Linked DNA regions of Homo sapiens: region 2 is linked to region 1. A link means that fine-mapping ties the variant in region 1 to the expression of a gene that starts in the linked region. Tissue or cell type: sun-exposed skin. Region 1 holds a variant in brackets; the other region holds the start of a gene. All regions are shown on one strand. Distances are between the middles of the regions.

What was found. PIP is the estimated chance that this variant, and not a neighbour inherited with it, causes the effect.
Region 2: ACKR2 starts here. The variant in region 1 is fine-mapped to the expression of ACKR2 in sun-exposed skin (GTEx, PIP 0.97).

The regions. Positions count from the first base shown.
Region 1 is chr3:42,871,018-42,879,139 of GRCh38, reverse strand. CYP8B1 (cytochrome P450 family 8 subfamily B member 1) reads left to right here and starts at 3,261. Exons shown (of 1, transcript NM_004391.3): 1 at 3,261-6,948. The coding sequence starts at 3,324. The coding sequence ends at 4,829. RefSeq lists a silencer at 3,822-3,998. The variant G/T (reference allele first, on the strand shown) is at 4,121.
Region 2 is chr3:42,806,246-42,814,367 of GRCh38, reverse strand. ACKR2 (atypical chemokine receptor 2) reads right to left here and starts at 4,923. Exons shown (of 3, transcript NM_001296.5): 1 at 4,836-4,923. RefSeq lists an enhancer at 8,044-8,122.

The DNA of each region.
Region 1 (8,122 bases):
CACAGGCATGCACCACCATACCTGGCTAATTTTTGTAGAGACAGGGTTTCACCATGTTACCCAGGCTGGGCTCCAAGCTCTGGGCTCAAGCAATCCACTTGCCTTAGCCTTCAAAATTGCTGGGATTGCAGGCGCGAGCCACCACACCTAGCCTTGCTACTTATAGAGTACAGGCAGAGTAGATTTAGCATAATTCTGAAGGGCCCTAGGATTTTCAGAATGGTCGTGAGCTTTGGCTTCAACTGAAAGTCACCAGCTACCTTAGCTCCTAAAAAGAGAGTCATCCTACCCTTAGAGGCTTTGAAGCAGGGCATTGACTTTGCTCTAGGAAAGTCCTTAGATGGTCTCTTCTTCCAATATAAGGCCGTTTCATCTACATTAAAAATCTGTTGCTTAGTGTAGCCATCTTCATCAATTATCTTAGCTACATCTTTTAGATAACTTGCTGCAACTTCTTCATCAACACTTGCTGCTTCACGTTGCACTTCTATGTTATAGAGATGGCTTCTTTCCTTAAACCTAATGAACCAACCTATGCTACCTTCAAACTTTTCTCCAACTGCTTCCTCATCACTTTCAGCCTTCATAGAATTGAAGAGAGTTAAAACATTGCTCTGGATTAGGCTTTGGCTAAGGGAATGTTGTAGCTGGTTTGATCTATGCAGGCCACTAAAACTTTCTTCATATCAGCAATAAAGCTGTTTTTCTTATTATTCATGTATTCACTAGAGTAGCACTTCTAATTTCCTTCAAGAAATTTTTTCTTTTGCATTTACAACTTGGATAACTGTGTAGTGCAACAAACCTAGATTGCAGCCTATCTTGGCCTTCCTCACTAAGCTTAATCATTTCTGGCTTGTGATTTAAAGTGAAATTTAAAGTGATTTAAAGCGCAGCTCTTCCTTACACTTGAACACTTAGATGCCATTGTAGGGTTATTAATTGGCCTAATTTCAAAATAGCTGTGTCTTGGGAAACAGGAAAGCCCAAGGAGAGATAGAAAGAGGGGAGAACAGCTGGTCAGTGGAACAGTCAGAATACACACAACATTTACCAATTAAGTTTGCATCATATATGGGCCCAGTTCATGGTGCCCCAAAACAATTACAGTACTAACATATCACAGATCGCCATAACAGCTGTAATGATAATAATGAAAAAATTTGAAATATTGTGAGAATTACAAAATGTGACACAGAGACACAAAGTTAGCACACACTGTTGGAAAAATGGTGCCAATAGTTTTCCTCAATGCAGGGTTGCCACAAACCTTCAATTTGTAAAAAACATAGTATCTGTGAAGTGCAATAAAGCAAAGCACATTAAATGAGAAATATGTGTATAATTACTTTGGGCAGTGATTTAATATCTTTCTCCCTCCATTAGACCATAAACTGCAAGAGAGCAGGGACTGTGTCTATCTCATTCATGATTATAATCCCAGATCGTAGCAACATTTCTGCCAGTAAGTGCCCAATAAATATCTAGTGAATGGATAGATGGGGCTTCTCCAAGGAAGGAGGGAATGAATAGATGAGTGTGGGTTAATGAATGAGGTAAGAATGAATGTGAAATAATGGTTCATCCATTAAAAACTAGGGGACACGGTTCAGTTCATTGGATTTGGCCCAGTTTCAGACCGAATTCTAAGGTTGAGGAGAGTTGATGATGCCAAGTACTGTGGTGGTCCTGAACAATTAAAGAGGGATTCTGGGAAGCAGAGTGTGGACAGTTCCAACTCCCTGCCAAGGGGAAGCTCATAGGCAAAGGAAGCTCACTCCAGAGGGGATATGGAAGTTCCATACCCTCTTTTGTCTGAAGAGCCGAAGTCCCTGTTCTCAGGTCGTTAGGAAGTTAAAAAGTAATTTGGAGGTTATCAGAACTGATTGAATTGAGTTTGAACCTCACCTATAGCAACAATGGGCCAGGCTGCTTGACTAATGCCTTGGCGTCAATGGTACAGTTTTCTCCCTCTTGAGCTGCTGGCAGGGACCTGGGCTGACATGTCTCAGAAGGCCCTTAGTCAATGATTAGCTTATCTCAAGGCCCCAAGCCAGGGCAGCTGTCAAAGAGGGTCCCCACTGCGTTCTGCACCTAGATCCTCATTGTGAAATGAAGTATGAAGTGATTGAGTGAGGTCTCTATTGTCTCTGACATTTTACAATTCCAGGATTCTGCCTTCTTGTCAGAGAAGTGTATAGGCAAGCAGTTGGGCAGGTGAGAGGGCTCCGGGTGAGAGGCTCAGAGACTGAGGGCTCAGCCTCTGCTTGAAGAGTCATCATCTGGGAGGCTCTGTGGCCTCCTCAGATGAGTTCATTCACACTCATACCCCAAGATGGAGTCAACACCCCCTCCACCATCTCAGCCTTCTCAGCATCTAAAGCCCCAGCATCAATGCCTCTTTTTTTGGGTTAGGGGTCAGAGCTGTTGTGGAAGGGCATACAGTCATTCTTCACTTGCCTTTGACTGTGTACTCTGTGCACATGGAGGTAGGAGCAGACATGACTTCAACAAGGTCATGCCCCCTTGGCAAGCATCTTTGAGACCAGAGAGGAAGACAGACTAGGGAAAGAATGAGGAGATAAGCACGGGCTGCTGTGAGGTCCAGGGGAGCAGGCAAAGGTAAGAGAAAAGGCTTTAGGATACTAACTAACATATATGGAGCACTAGCATGAGCCAGGCACTATTCTAAGTGCTTTTCAGGTGTTATCTCTTTTTGCCTCACAACAGCACCTACAAGGCACTGTAATTATCCCTACTTCACAGATGAGGGAGTGGAGCCACAGTGAGGTTAACTTACTTGACCAAGGGGGCCAAGTAGGAATGGAGGCATTTGTTGAGTCTTCTAAAGATGAGGAAAGAGTGGAAGTGAGATTTTGTAAGTGCTTGATTCATTTCTACCAACTGAACTGGCAAATAAATAAAAGCATGAGTAAATGGGGGTATAAATAGTCTGTCAGCTATGGGGGTGGGAGTGGGCTCAAGGCAGGCTTAGAGAGAAGGTGCAAGAGCTGTCTGAAAAGGTCAGAGCAAAGCATGAAGCTGGTGAGCAGCTGTGACCATAGCTGGAAGCTTCTCTCTGAGCTTTCTCCTGGTTACCTCCTCCTCCCCTACGTGACCAGTCAGCCAAGTGTTAAGTCCAGGGGAACATTTTGCTGCTTCCAAGTACTGTCTCACTAGTGTTATTTGCCATAACTTGCGGCCACAGGGCAAGGTCCAGGTGCTCAGACCTTTACATCCTGGACTTTCCAAGGCCTCCCAAAGCTCTCTGGCACCCAGGGAACAGTGTGCGTGTCGAGAGCTTAATCCGCAGGAGCATAGCCATGGTTCTCTGGGGTCCAGTGCTGGGAGCTCTGCTGGTGGTCATTGCTGGATACCTGTGCCTGCCAGGGATGCTCCGACAACGCAGGCCATGGGAGCCCCCTCTGGACAAGGGTACCGTGCCCTGGCTTGGCCATGCCATGGCTTTCCGGAAGAATATGTTTGAATTTCTGAAGCGCATGAGGACCAAGCATGGGGATGTGTTCACAGTGCAGCTAGGGGGCCAGTACTTCACCTTCGTCATGGACCCCCTCTCCTTTGGCTCCATCCTCAAGGACACACAGAGAAAACTAGACTTTGGGCAATATGCAAAAAAACTGGTGCTGAAGGTATTTGGATACCGTTCAGTGCAAGGGGACCATGAGATGATACACTCAGCCAGCACCAAGCATCTGAGGGGGGATGGCTTGAAGGATCTTAATGAGACCATGCTGGACAGCCTGTCCTTTGTAATGCTGACGTCCAAAGGCTGGAGTCTGGATGCCAGTTGCTGGCATGAGGACAGCCTCTTTCGCTTCTGCTATTACATCTTGTTCACAGCTGGCTACCTGAGCTTGTTCGGCTACACGAAGGACAAGGAGCAGGACCTGCTACAGGCAGGAGAGTTATTCATGGAGTTCCGCAAGTTTGACCTTCTTTTCCCAAGGTTTGTCTACTCCCTGCTGTGGCCCCGGGAGTGGCTAGAAGTGGGCCGACTCCAGCGTCTCTTTCACAAGATGCTCTCCGTGAGCCACAGCCAGGAGAAGGAGGGCATCAGCAACTGGCTGGGCAACATGCTTCAGTTTCTGAGGGAGCAGGG[G/T]GTACCCTCAGCTATGCAGGACAAGTTCAACTTCATGATGCTCTGGGCCTCCCAGGGGAACACGGGGCCTACCTCTTTCTGGGCCCTCTTGTACCTCCTGAAGCACCCAGAAGCTATTCGGGCTGTGAGGGAGGAAGCTACCCAGGTCCTGGGTGAGGCCAGGCTGGAGACCAAGCAGTCCTTTGCCTTCAAACTCGGTGCCCTGCAACACACCCCAGTTCTAGACAGCGTGGTGGAGGAGACGCTGCGGCTGAGGGCTGCACCCACCCTCCTCAGGTTGGTTCATGAAGACTATACCCTGAAGATGTCCAGTGGGCAGGAGTATCTGTTCCGCCATGGAGACATCCTGGCCCTCTTTCCCTACCTCTCAGTGCACATGGACCCTGACATCCACCCTGAGCCCACCGTCTTCAAGTACGATCGCTTCCTCAACCCTAATGGCAGCCGGAAAGTGGACTTCTTCAAGACAGGCAAGAAGATCCACCACTACACCATGCCCTGGGGTTCGGGCGTTTCCATCTGCCCTGGGAGGTTCTTTGCACTCAGTGAGGTGAAGCTCTTTATCCTGCTTATGGTCACACACTTTGACTTAGAGTTGGTGGACCCTGACACACCACTACCCCATGTTGACCCGCAGCGCTGGGGTTTTGGCACCATGCAGCCCAGCCACGATGTGCGCTTCCGCTACCGCCTGCATCCTACAGAGTGAGCTTGGCCAAGCCAGCTGCAAACCTGGCCAGAGGAGTTCTATTGCATCTCTCACCTGTTCTCACCCCTCTGCAGCCCCAAGACCCCACTGGCCACCCCTCCCTCTGGTCCTGTGGCACCCCCTACCTCTGTTCTGCCTGTCCTCGCTCTCTCCCCGCCTAGTCATCTGACAGGCTTATCATTCTCTTTAAAATACCATCTCTCAGAGTGGGTTCTGCCGAACCCTCCTCTCACAGGAAGTCCAGAGGAAGGGGGAGTATCTGTGGGCAACTTGGTTTGGGAGATGATGCCTGCCTTGAGAAGTCCTGAGTACAGAGACTGGTTCCCCCCAGACACGAGTAACATGGCATCTTGCAAACATCAGCCTCCACTCTCCCAGCTTGCTTTAGTTTTTTCAGCAACACTTATCCCACATCCTATGGAATTCAGGTTCTAGAACAGTGTCATCCAACATAAATATGAAGCAAGCTACATGAGTAGTGGGGTTTTTTGGTTTTGTTTGTTTGTTTTGAGACAGAGTCTTGCTCTGTCGCCGAGGCTGCAGTGCAGCGGTGCGATCTCTGCTCACTGCAACCTCTGCCTCCTGGGTTTAAGCAATTCTCCTGCCTCAGCCTCCCCAGTAGCTGGGATTACAGGCACCTACCACCTTGCCCAGCTAATTTAGTTTCCTGGTAAACACATTTTTAAAAAGTAAAATGAAACAATTCATTTTTATAATATACTTTACTTAATCCAATATATCCAAAATATTGGCATTTCAACGTGATCACTATTAAAAATTTTAACGTAATAGTTTTTACCTTCCCTTTTTCATCCTGTCTTCAAAGTCTGGTATGTACTGTACTTTTGCAGTTCTTCCCAGTTCAGACTAGCCACATTCCAAGTGCTTAATTGCCGTGTGTGGCAGGTGGCTGCCCTATTGGATAGCACAGGTCTAGAGAAATGATACCTTTTTTTTTTTTTGAGACAGAGTCTCACTCTGTTGCCCAGGCTGCAGTGCAGTGGTGTGATCTTGGCTCACTACAACCTCTGCCTCCCGGGTTCAAGTAATTCTCCTGCCTCAGGCTTCTGAGTAGCTGGGATTATAGGTGCGCACCACCACACCCGGCTAGTTTCTGTATTTTTAGTAGAGACGGCGTTTCACCATTTTGGCCGGCCTCCTCGGCCTCCCAAAGTTCTGGGATTACAGGCATGAGCCACTGTGCCCAGTCAGGATGTCTTTAATGTAGGAATCATTCAAGATCCCTCCTCAGTGCCCATGTCTCCCCCACCTCAGGGTGCTGTCAACCCTCCCTTGGTTTCCATGATCATTGCTGAACTCAGAGCTTTCTTCTATCCCCAGACCCACATGGGAGTCTCCCAGCACCTCTGACTCAGCTTGGCCAATGCAGAACTTGGCATCTGAACCCCTGCCTCTTCCCTGAACCACTCCTCCTCCTGATTTCCCTGCTCTCTCTGCTCAGAACACTACCATTCACCCCATCTCCCAGAGACACTCTCCCTCCTCCTCTTTCACCTTCATACAAGCAGGCCCCCGTCCTATCAGTACACCCCCCTGTGATGCCTCTGAAATATGTACCCTCCTCCCCTCTCCTACTGTCATTCTTATACCTGTGATCTCTGCGTTTCTCTTCTACACTGCTGCCAGAGGCCTTTTTGCCAAAAGCACTGCTGATTGTCACTCTTTTACTTTCCTGGTTCCCCTTTGACTTCACACACTTGACGTTTACATTTTGTCACAGTTGGTCCCCCTTGCCTTCACATACCTGATGTTTAAATTTTGTCACGGTTAGTCTCCAAACTTCTCAACTTTGCCAGCTTTCTCCAATGAAACCATCAGTAGAGACATTGCTGTTCCTGCCCATCCCAGTGCCAGCTACTCCTTCCTGGAAGCCTTCCTGGATTTCACGCATCCCATCCTCTGGCCAGAAATGGCCTCCGAACTGTGCAGCTCCTGCAGCACCATTTGTATCATAGCATATCTGTTATGTGTCGTTGCTTTCTGTGTCTTGGTTTCTGCCTGCTGCCCACTTCCCTAGACTGGAGCCTACTGGGGCATGGTATTTTATTCATTTCTGACCTCCAATTCCCTAAGTGGAGATTAAATGTTAGAAACCTGACTTCCAGTCTCGGCTAATTTACTTTCAGTCCTCAAATCATTTCCTGGCCTCAGCCCTCCAATCTATGAAATGAAGACAATCCCCCTTCCCAGCGTGCTTATCAGTGCTACAAGAGGGTGAGGGGGTGGCTGCCATAGCTGCAGCTGGCTGATGGCAGGGCTCCAGCTGGAGCTGGGACAGGAGGAAGAATGACTGTGGGAGCTGGATAGAGTGTCTTGGAGGAGGTGGGCCCAGGCTGCATGGACCCCCCGACCCAGCGACCAGCCAGTGGAACTTCTCTCTGCTACTTTTATCTTACATCTCTGGCAGCCTCACATTTCTCCTGAGGCTGGCTGCCTGTTCTGCTCTGCCAGGAGAGTAGGCAAGGGCCTGAGCTGGGGTGACAGTCTGTCTCCAACTAGCTATGTGACCCTGGTCCAGGGCCTGCATTTCTCTGAGGTCAGCTGCCCGCAAATGCTGATGTCTGCCTAGGGCTTGATAGAGCTCTGCCTGGTTAGGAGAAGCTGAGATATCCCATCCTATTCTACAAGGACCAGGAGCACAAGGAGAAGAGTTGAGTAGGGGGCATAGAAGGAGGAGAAATGGGCTGGAAGGTGGAAGACTATCCATGGGAAATGTACCAATGACATCTCTGCCCAGCCAGGCCCTGTGCCCAGTACAATGGGGCTGGGGCTGTGGGGAAGCAGGAACAGAGCCTTAACACACCTCCTTGGCCCTCCCTAGACCTTGGTGCTGTGTCTCCTTTTGTGCCTCACACCCAAAGGAATATGGGCCAGGAGAGTGGCCTATGGATTGGCTGGGGTGAGGCTGAGGGCTGGAGTTCCCTGAGTCAGGACCAGAAGGTCTCAACTGAGAGTGACCATGTGCAGATAGGAACTTAATGGACCCTGTGGCCTGTCTGAGAGCTCCAGAGGAGATGCTTGGGACCTAGAGAAGCCTCAGCGGGTGAGGTGTGAGGTGAATGCAAGTGTACCATCCCACAGTCAGGGATATCCAGCATAACAACAGGCCTCCCAGGAAGCAAGAGCCCCCCAGGATTGGAGTGTGGGCAGGGATCCCAATGCCCCATGCCCGCCTGCTTGCATGGGAGGGGCCCATGGGCCATATAGCTCTCTGCCCCCTGCATGAGGACTGCTGCAGCCAACCCTGGCAGAGGCCTTGAGGCAGGAGGAAG
Region 2 (8,122 bases), 65 kb after region 1:
CCTTTCTTTCTATAAATTACAGGTGGGTTGGTTTAATACCTGAAAACCCAAATAATGTGTTAAGTCTTCTGCATCAATTATACTTCAAAATGACGCCCAATACGAAGAATGGAATAATAGATGTTGCATGTTTGTTACCAATTATAATGTCTGTATTATGAAAGATGTAAGTGTGTCATTGTCATTTTCTTGTAACATGATATGGTATAAAGTGTAGCAGAATAATCTTCACCAAAAATTGACTGAATCATCTGATTATGTTTCAGATATTTATCACCATCATTCACCAAGATTTTAGTTTCTGCATACTAATCAGAAGGAGAGAATTTCTCCCACAAACAGGCAACAAAACCTCAAATAACTAGGCATAAACAGATGTTGTCTCTCGTTATTACATTAAGTTTGGGTAAAGTGTGAACTTCTTAGAATTTGCAAGGAGAATTCAAGTTTCCCAGAATGAGACTGGGGTCATTAATGATACTGCGAAAACTTAAAAACAGCTCACCATGGAACAAATTCCATCTATTCCTCAACAGAGCTTGAAAAACAAAATACAACTTCCTAATAAATATGGCAGTTTTCAGTCTTTATGCTGTGAACCAGTGAAGTATGCACATGATGCAGAAAATAATAAAGGCACATTGTACCAAGTTACAAACTCTTGAATTTGTATGATATGGTTTGTGTCCCCACCCAAATCTCAAGTCAAATTGTCATTCTCAGTGTTGGAGGAGGGGCCTGGTAGGAGGTGATTAGATCACGGGGGTGGACTTTCTCCTTGCTGTTCTCTTATAGTAGTTCTCACAAGACCTGGTTGTTTAAAAGTGTGTAGCACTTCTTCCTTCACTTGCTTTCTCCTGATCCCACCATATAAGACAGGTTTGCTTCCCCTTCATCTTCCACCATGATTGTTAAGTTTCCTGAGGCCTCCTTAGCCATGCTTCCTATACAACTTGCAGAACTGTGAGTCAATTAAACCTCTTTTCTTTATAAATTACCCAGTCTCAGGTAGTTCTTTCTAGCATTGCGAGAACAGACCAATACATATATTTTTAGAATAGATTATGTAGGGCAAACTGAACCAAGATTTTAAGTTAATATTAGATACTATAACATACTTATTTAAAAACAGATCAAAATCAAACCCAAAAACAAACCCAAAACATACTATAGCTCTTGGACTAATTCTTATTTGCAAATTATCTTGCTTTCGTTATTCATATTTTGTCCCAAAGGCCCTAATGCTAAATAAAATAAAATAAATTATGGAGCTTTATTTTAATCAAATTCAATAACATTAACAGCACTGTTCACATTAACATAACTGTCTAAATCAATCACTTTACCACATATATGATTAGAACCAAAAGAAAGCTGAAGGCCGGGCATAGTGGCTCATGCCTGTAATCCCAGCACTTTGGGAGGCTGAGGCAGGTGGATCACTTGAGGTCAGGACTTTGAGACCAGCTTGGCCAAAAAGGTGAAACCCTGTCTCTACTAAAAATACAAAAAAATTAGCCGGATGTGGTGGCACATGCCTGTAGTCCCAGCTACTCAGGAGGCTGAGGCAAGAGGATCACTTGAGCCTGGGAGGTGGAGGTTGAAGTCAGATGAGATTATGCCAGTGCACTCCAGCCTGAGCAACAGAGTCAGACTCCATCTCAAAAAAAAAAAAAAAAAAAAAAAAGGCTGAAAATTGCCCAACCACTTTTATTAAAGGTTTTCAGTTTTAAGCTGCATGGAATACTAAGAGGTCTGATTCCATGACCTGGAGAGGTAAGCAAGCAAACAGAGCACTGGGCTAGTTCTCAGGAAGGCAGAGTTATTCAGATTCTGCCTGTAAGTGTGTCATCTAAAACATCCACTTACATTCTCAAAAACTGTATTTTCATTAAAAGAAAGGAAATGGACTAGATGAGCTTTAAGGCCCCTTTTAATACCTAACACTGAGACTCAATCTTCAGAAAAAAATTTAGAATGCATTGCTTTAAACCTTTCCTAAACATTTATACTTTGTCTCTCTCATAAAGCAATATTAGAAAGTATGACTATCTAGGAAATAAATTGTATCCATCACATTAGTTTCAGTAAGGGCTTGGCACAACAAATGCAGTCCCATTACAATACTCCTAGCCAAACAAGGGCCGTTATGCACTATACAACCCTGAGGGAAAGAAAACTGAAGGGGGCCAGCCCCTCCACACCTCTGGGTATTCCTCGTCAGGTGGAACGAGAGACTGAGAAAAGGAATAAGACACAGAGACAAAGTATAGAGAAAGAACAGTGGTCCCAGGGGACCGGCGCTCAGCATATGGAGGACCTGCACAGGCCCCGGTCTCTGAGTTCCTTCAGCATTTATTGATTACTATTTTCACTATCTCGGCTAGGGGAATGCGGCAGGAGAACAGGGTGATAATGGGGAGAAGGTCAGCAGGAAAACATGTGAGCAAAGGAATCTGTGTCACAAATAAGTTTAAGGGAAGGTACTGTGCCCGGATGTGCACGTAGGCCAGATTTTTGCTTCTCTCCACCCAAACATCTCAGTGTAGCAAAGAGTAACAGAGCAGCATTGCTGCCAGCATATCTCGCCTCCAGCCACAGGGCGGTTTTCTCCTACCTCAGAATAGGAGGAATTTACGATCGGGTTTTACACCGAGACATTCCATTCCCAGGGACATGCAGGAGATGGAGGCCTTCCTCTTATCTCAACCGCAAGAGACCTTCCTCTTTTACTAATCCTCCTCAGCACAGACCCTTTACGGGTGACAGGCTGGGGAGGACGGCTGGGTCTTTCCCTTCCCACAAGGCCATATCTCAGGCTGTGTCAGTTGGGGGAAACCTTGGACAATACCCAGGCTTTCTTGGGCAGAGGTCCCTGCGGCTTTCCGCAGTTCGTTATGCCCCTGGTTAATCGAGAATGGAGAATGGCGATGACTTTTACCAAGCATACAGCCTGTAAACATATTGTTAACAAGGCACACCCTGCACAGCCCTAGATCCCTTAAACCTTGATTCCATACAGCACATGTTTCTGTGAGCACAGGGTTGGGGCTAAAGTTATAGATTAACAGCATCTCAAGGCAAAACAATTTTTCTTAGTACAGATCAAAATGGAGTTTCTTATGTCTTCCTTTTCTACATAGACACAGTAACAGTCTGATCTTTCTTTTCCCTACAGAAAATGTATGTGCCTTGTTTCAAAACAATGAGGAAATGAGGGCCTGCCACTGTGGCTCACACCTGTAATCCAGGCACTTTGGGAGGCTGAGGTGGGCAGATCACTTCAGGTCAGGAGTTCAAGACCAGCCTGGCCAACATGGTGAAACCCCATCTCTACTAAATATACAAAAGTTAGCCGGGTGTGGTGGCAGATGCCTGTAATCCCGGCTACTCACATGAGAATCGCTTGAGCCTGGGAAGTGGAGGCTGCAGTGAGCCAAGGTTGCACCACTGCATTCCAGCCTGGGCAACAGAGCGAGACTCTATCTCAAAAAAGGAATGAGGAAATGAAGTCGGTGTTAGGAATCACCCTTACAATTTTAAGGAAATTGAACACTCGAACAAAGGATTTTTAATGAAGCAATTTTACTTTTGCGCAGAGGGGTGTCTCTTCGGCCAGTTGCCATGAGAGCGCACTTGAACAAAGGGGCACGAGGGCCTTTATTTTTGACGCAAGTCTTGCCTTTGTATTCTTTTTTTATTGGTAGTGGTCGGGTCGTACAATTTAAACTAATTTTGGTTGGCTAAACATTCGATTTTTTTTAGATAGGGTGAGCATGTAAAAGAAAAAGTGGAGGGAAAGGGGAAAGGGTGTTTGTAATGAGCTAGAAAGTTAGTCTTTTTTTTAATAAGGAAAGGAATGTAAGTTGGTATTGATAAAACGTGGTATTGTGGCGTGCCTGGGCATTTAACAAAGGCAAAGAGGAAAAAAGGCGAAAAAGGAGAAAAATTGGGGGGGGGTACTATGAATTAAAGAATAAAAGATTGATCAGATTATTTGAAGAGAAATCTTATCATATCCCACATCAGTTTATCAATACACCCAGTCTTTTTAAACAATTTCAACAAAAAGTTAATTTGTTTGAAATGGTTAGTTGACTCCTAACTCATCATTCCAATCACATTACCAACAGATTGAAAGATATTCTGCAACTTAATCGCATTACCAACAGACTGAAAGATATTCTGCAATTAATTCCAATAAAATGTTATTTTTTAAACAATGAATCACTTTAGAATTCAGGAAATATCTATGTCAATACTGTTTTCTAATTTCCTATTATTTATTCTTTCCTGCTGTTGGGGCTCAGAAAATGATACCCCAAAGTGAAGGCCTCAGAAGCAGCCTCAGAAGCAAAGTTTCTAACCAACCTGTCTTACCCTCCTGTCTATCTGTCATACCCTCATTCTCTCCTGAAGCAAGTCATAGAAAATAGAATTCCTCTTCCCCAAGGCTGATTACAGAAACCAGAACCTCTAAGCTTCCCCAACTTTTTTTTTTTTTTTGAGACGGAGTCTAGCTTTGTTGCCCAGGCTGGAGTACAGTGGCGCGATCTCGGGTCACTGCAACCTCTGCCTCCCAGGTTCACACAATTCTCCTGCCTTAGCCTCCTGAGTAGCTGAGATTACAGGTGCACGCCACCACGCCTGGCTAATTTTTGTATTTTTAGTAGAGATGGGGTATCACCATGTTGGTCAGGCTGGTCTCAAACTCCTGAGCTCGTGATCCACCCGCCTTGGCCTCCCAAAGTGCTAGGATTACAGGCGTGAGCCACTGTGCCCAACCGCTTCCCCTACTTTTTGTCTAAGAATTGGCCATAAAGAAATTCTCTCACCTGCCGTGTTCAATAGCAGCTCATAAGACCTCCATTCCAGAAAGGATCCCGTACTGTATCCTGAAAGGAGAAATGCTACAATCGAAAGAAAGTTCAAGAATCTGAACAGACAGGTCTTGCTAGGTTTTCTATTACCATTAGCTCATATCCTTTGTTGTCCAATCACATTTCTACACGACTGTCCCTGTTTCATCAAACCTAAGCATATAATGAGACAGAGTCACCTGTATCTTTGGGTCTTCACTCTGAAGGCTCCTGCATCATGTAAAACTTTGATCAATAGGAGGCTGAGGAAGGCAGATCATGAGGTCAGGAGATCAAGACCATCCTGGCCAACGTGGTGAAACCCCATCTCTACTAAAATACAACAAATTAGCCAGGTGTGGTGGCACACACCTGTAGTCCCAGGTACTTGAGAGGCTGAGGCAGGAGAATTGCTTGAACCCGGAAGGCGGAGGTTGTAGTGAGACAAGATCACGCTACTCCACTCCAGCCTGGCGACAGAGCAAGACTCTGTCTCAAAAACAAACAAACAAAACAAACCTTGATCAAATACAGTACATTTATAATGTTTTTCTCTTGTTTTTGTTTTGTTTTTATCTTTTCTTTTTTGAGACAGGGTCTCACTCTATGGCCTAGGCTGAGTGCAGTGGCACAATCTTGGCTCACTGCAGCCTTGACCTCCCAGGCTCAAGTGATCTGCTCACCTCAGCCTCCTGAGTAGCTGGGACTACAGAGGCACACCATCACACCCAGCAAATTTTTGTATTTTCTGTAGAGACGGGGTTTTGCCATGTTGTCCAGGCTAGTAATTTTCTCTTGTTAACCTGTCTTTTGTTATAGGAGTGTTAGCTGTAACGCTTATGATGGGAAAGAAAGGGATCATCCCCTTTCCACCCCTACACTGCCTCTGTTTATGTTTTCTCCCTTAAACTGACAGGGCTGGTACACTTTTGTCGAAAGATGGGACTTTTTTCTCCTAAATTCAACCGTCATTCAAACTGGGTCAGACTAATGACAATTCTACCAAGTAGTGTATACCAGTAGCCTCAATAAAGAGATTTTGGGGGACAAATGTGCATCTTCCACACAGTTGTAGCCATAGAGTGCATATCTAACTTCCTTAAATTATCTATGTGGATCTGTCATCCTATAATTTGTCTAAATCCTTATTTTTTAATATTATGAATAGAGTCCAGCTTATATATAAAAATGTATTTCCTTTCTATGTCTTAAAAATTACTTGCTGTTGAGCGATACTATATTCCTAAAATATAGCGGAATCAAAATTCCTAGTTTACAGTCCTCTACCTCTATTACTTACTAGCTATTTGACCTTTATACCAATCAATCATCAGAGATGATTGAACCAGAGCAACTCCATCTTGAATAGGGGCTAGGTAAGATAAGGCTGAGACCTACTGGGCTACATTCCCAGACAGTTAGGCATTCTAAGTCACAGGATGAGATAGGAGGTTAGGCATTCTAAGTCATAGGATGACATGGGAGATTGGCACAAGGTACAGGTCATAAAGACCTTGCTGATAAAACAGGTTGCAGTAAAGAAGCCAGCTAAAACCCACCAAAACCAACATGGCGACGAGAGTGACCTCTGGTCATCCTCACTGCTACACTCCCACCAGCACCATGACATTTTACAAATGCCATGGCAACATCAGGAAGTTACCCTATATGGTCTAAAAAGGGGAGGCATGAATAATCCACCCTTTGTTTAGCATACAATCAAGAAATAACCATAAAAATAGGCAACCAGCAGCCCTTGGGGGTATTCTGCCTATAGAGTAGCCATTCTTTTATTCCTTTACTTTTCTAATAAGCTTGCCTTCACTGTACTCTATGGATTCGTCTAGAATTACTTCTTGCAGGAGATCCAAGAACCCTCTCTTGGGGTCTGGATTGGGAGCCCTAATAGTAATTGGTTTAAAAGGTGCTTATACTTACAGCTTCAAGGGCAAGGTCTGACTCTTTTTGCACAGTACACAGCAAGGAATTTTTAAAGCAATAGCTAACATTTTTCATGCCAAGCATGGGGCTAACATGCTACATATATTTCCTCTTTAACCATCATTCATGTTACCCCCCATTTTACAAGTGAAAAAAGTGACACTTTGAGAAATCAAATCCAAGGTCACGGCTAGTATGTTGCCAACTAGTTGCTCTCCGCTGATGGGGCAGTATATCTTATTCTCTGGAAATTAACAAGTTAGCTGATGTTAGTTTGAGGCATATACATTGCCTTCAGAAATGAATATGCTTTGGTCACTGCTGCCATTAGCCTTTGTGTTTACAGAATCAAGAGACTAATGACTTCCGGTTGACCTTCATATTGAAGGCAGTGGGGTTTATCCTATAGTTCCTGACTATCCCTACTTATCTTTTAAACCCTCCAGTTATTGCAGCATTTACATCTTTCTTCATTTACCATTATTGAATTTCTATTGAGCACACAGGCAGCATTCAAGGAGATACCAGGATCATCCAGACAAAATATGTGCCTTCAAGGAGCTGAAAGCTACCATATAATCAAAGTATGAAGTTCTCTCTTTTTTTTTTTTTTTTTTTTTTGACAGAATCTCTCTCTGTCACCCAGGCTGGAGTGCAGTGGTGCGATCTTGGCTCACTACAAGCTCCGATTCCCGGGTTCACGCCATTCTCCTGCCTCAGTCTCTCCAGTAGCTGGGACTACAGGTGCACGCCACCACACCCGGCTAATTTTTTGTATTTTTAGTAGAGACGGGGTTTCACTGTGTTAGCCAGTATGGTCTCGATCTCCTGACCTGGTGATCCGCCTGCCTCAGCCTCCCAAAGTGCTTGGATTACAGGCGTGAGCCACCGTGCCCAGCGAAGTATGAAGTTCTTAATCATCCATAGCATGAAATGTTTCTTACATGTATCTTAATTATGAGATGAACGATTTTCAAAATCCTGAGCCCATGACATTTAGTTCCTATCTGTATGACGAGCACTTGGTAGTCTGCCTTGTTTTGTGGTTATATCAAGAAACTCTAACTTAATCACAGATTTCTCCATGGTGCAGTTGTAGATGCTTTGCATCTGAGGACTAAGCTCTGATTTTTTTTATCATGCCCAAATTCCTATCTAAGGGGTCTGGGGAGTCATGCCCCACAAATAATAAGTTATCATCAAATGGGTTTTATTTAACTCTATATATCGTGACTTACTTTCCAACTTGACTCTGGCATAACATTATAAGACAAGGAAGAAAATAAAAATATTTTACCCCAAAACATATTTCTTTGCCATAT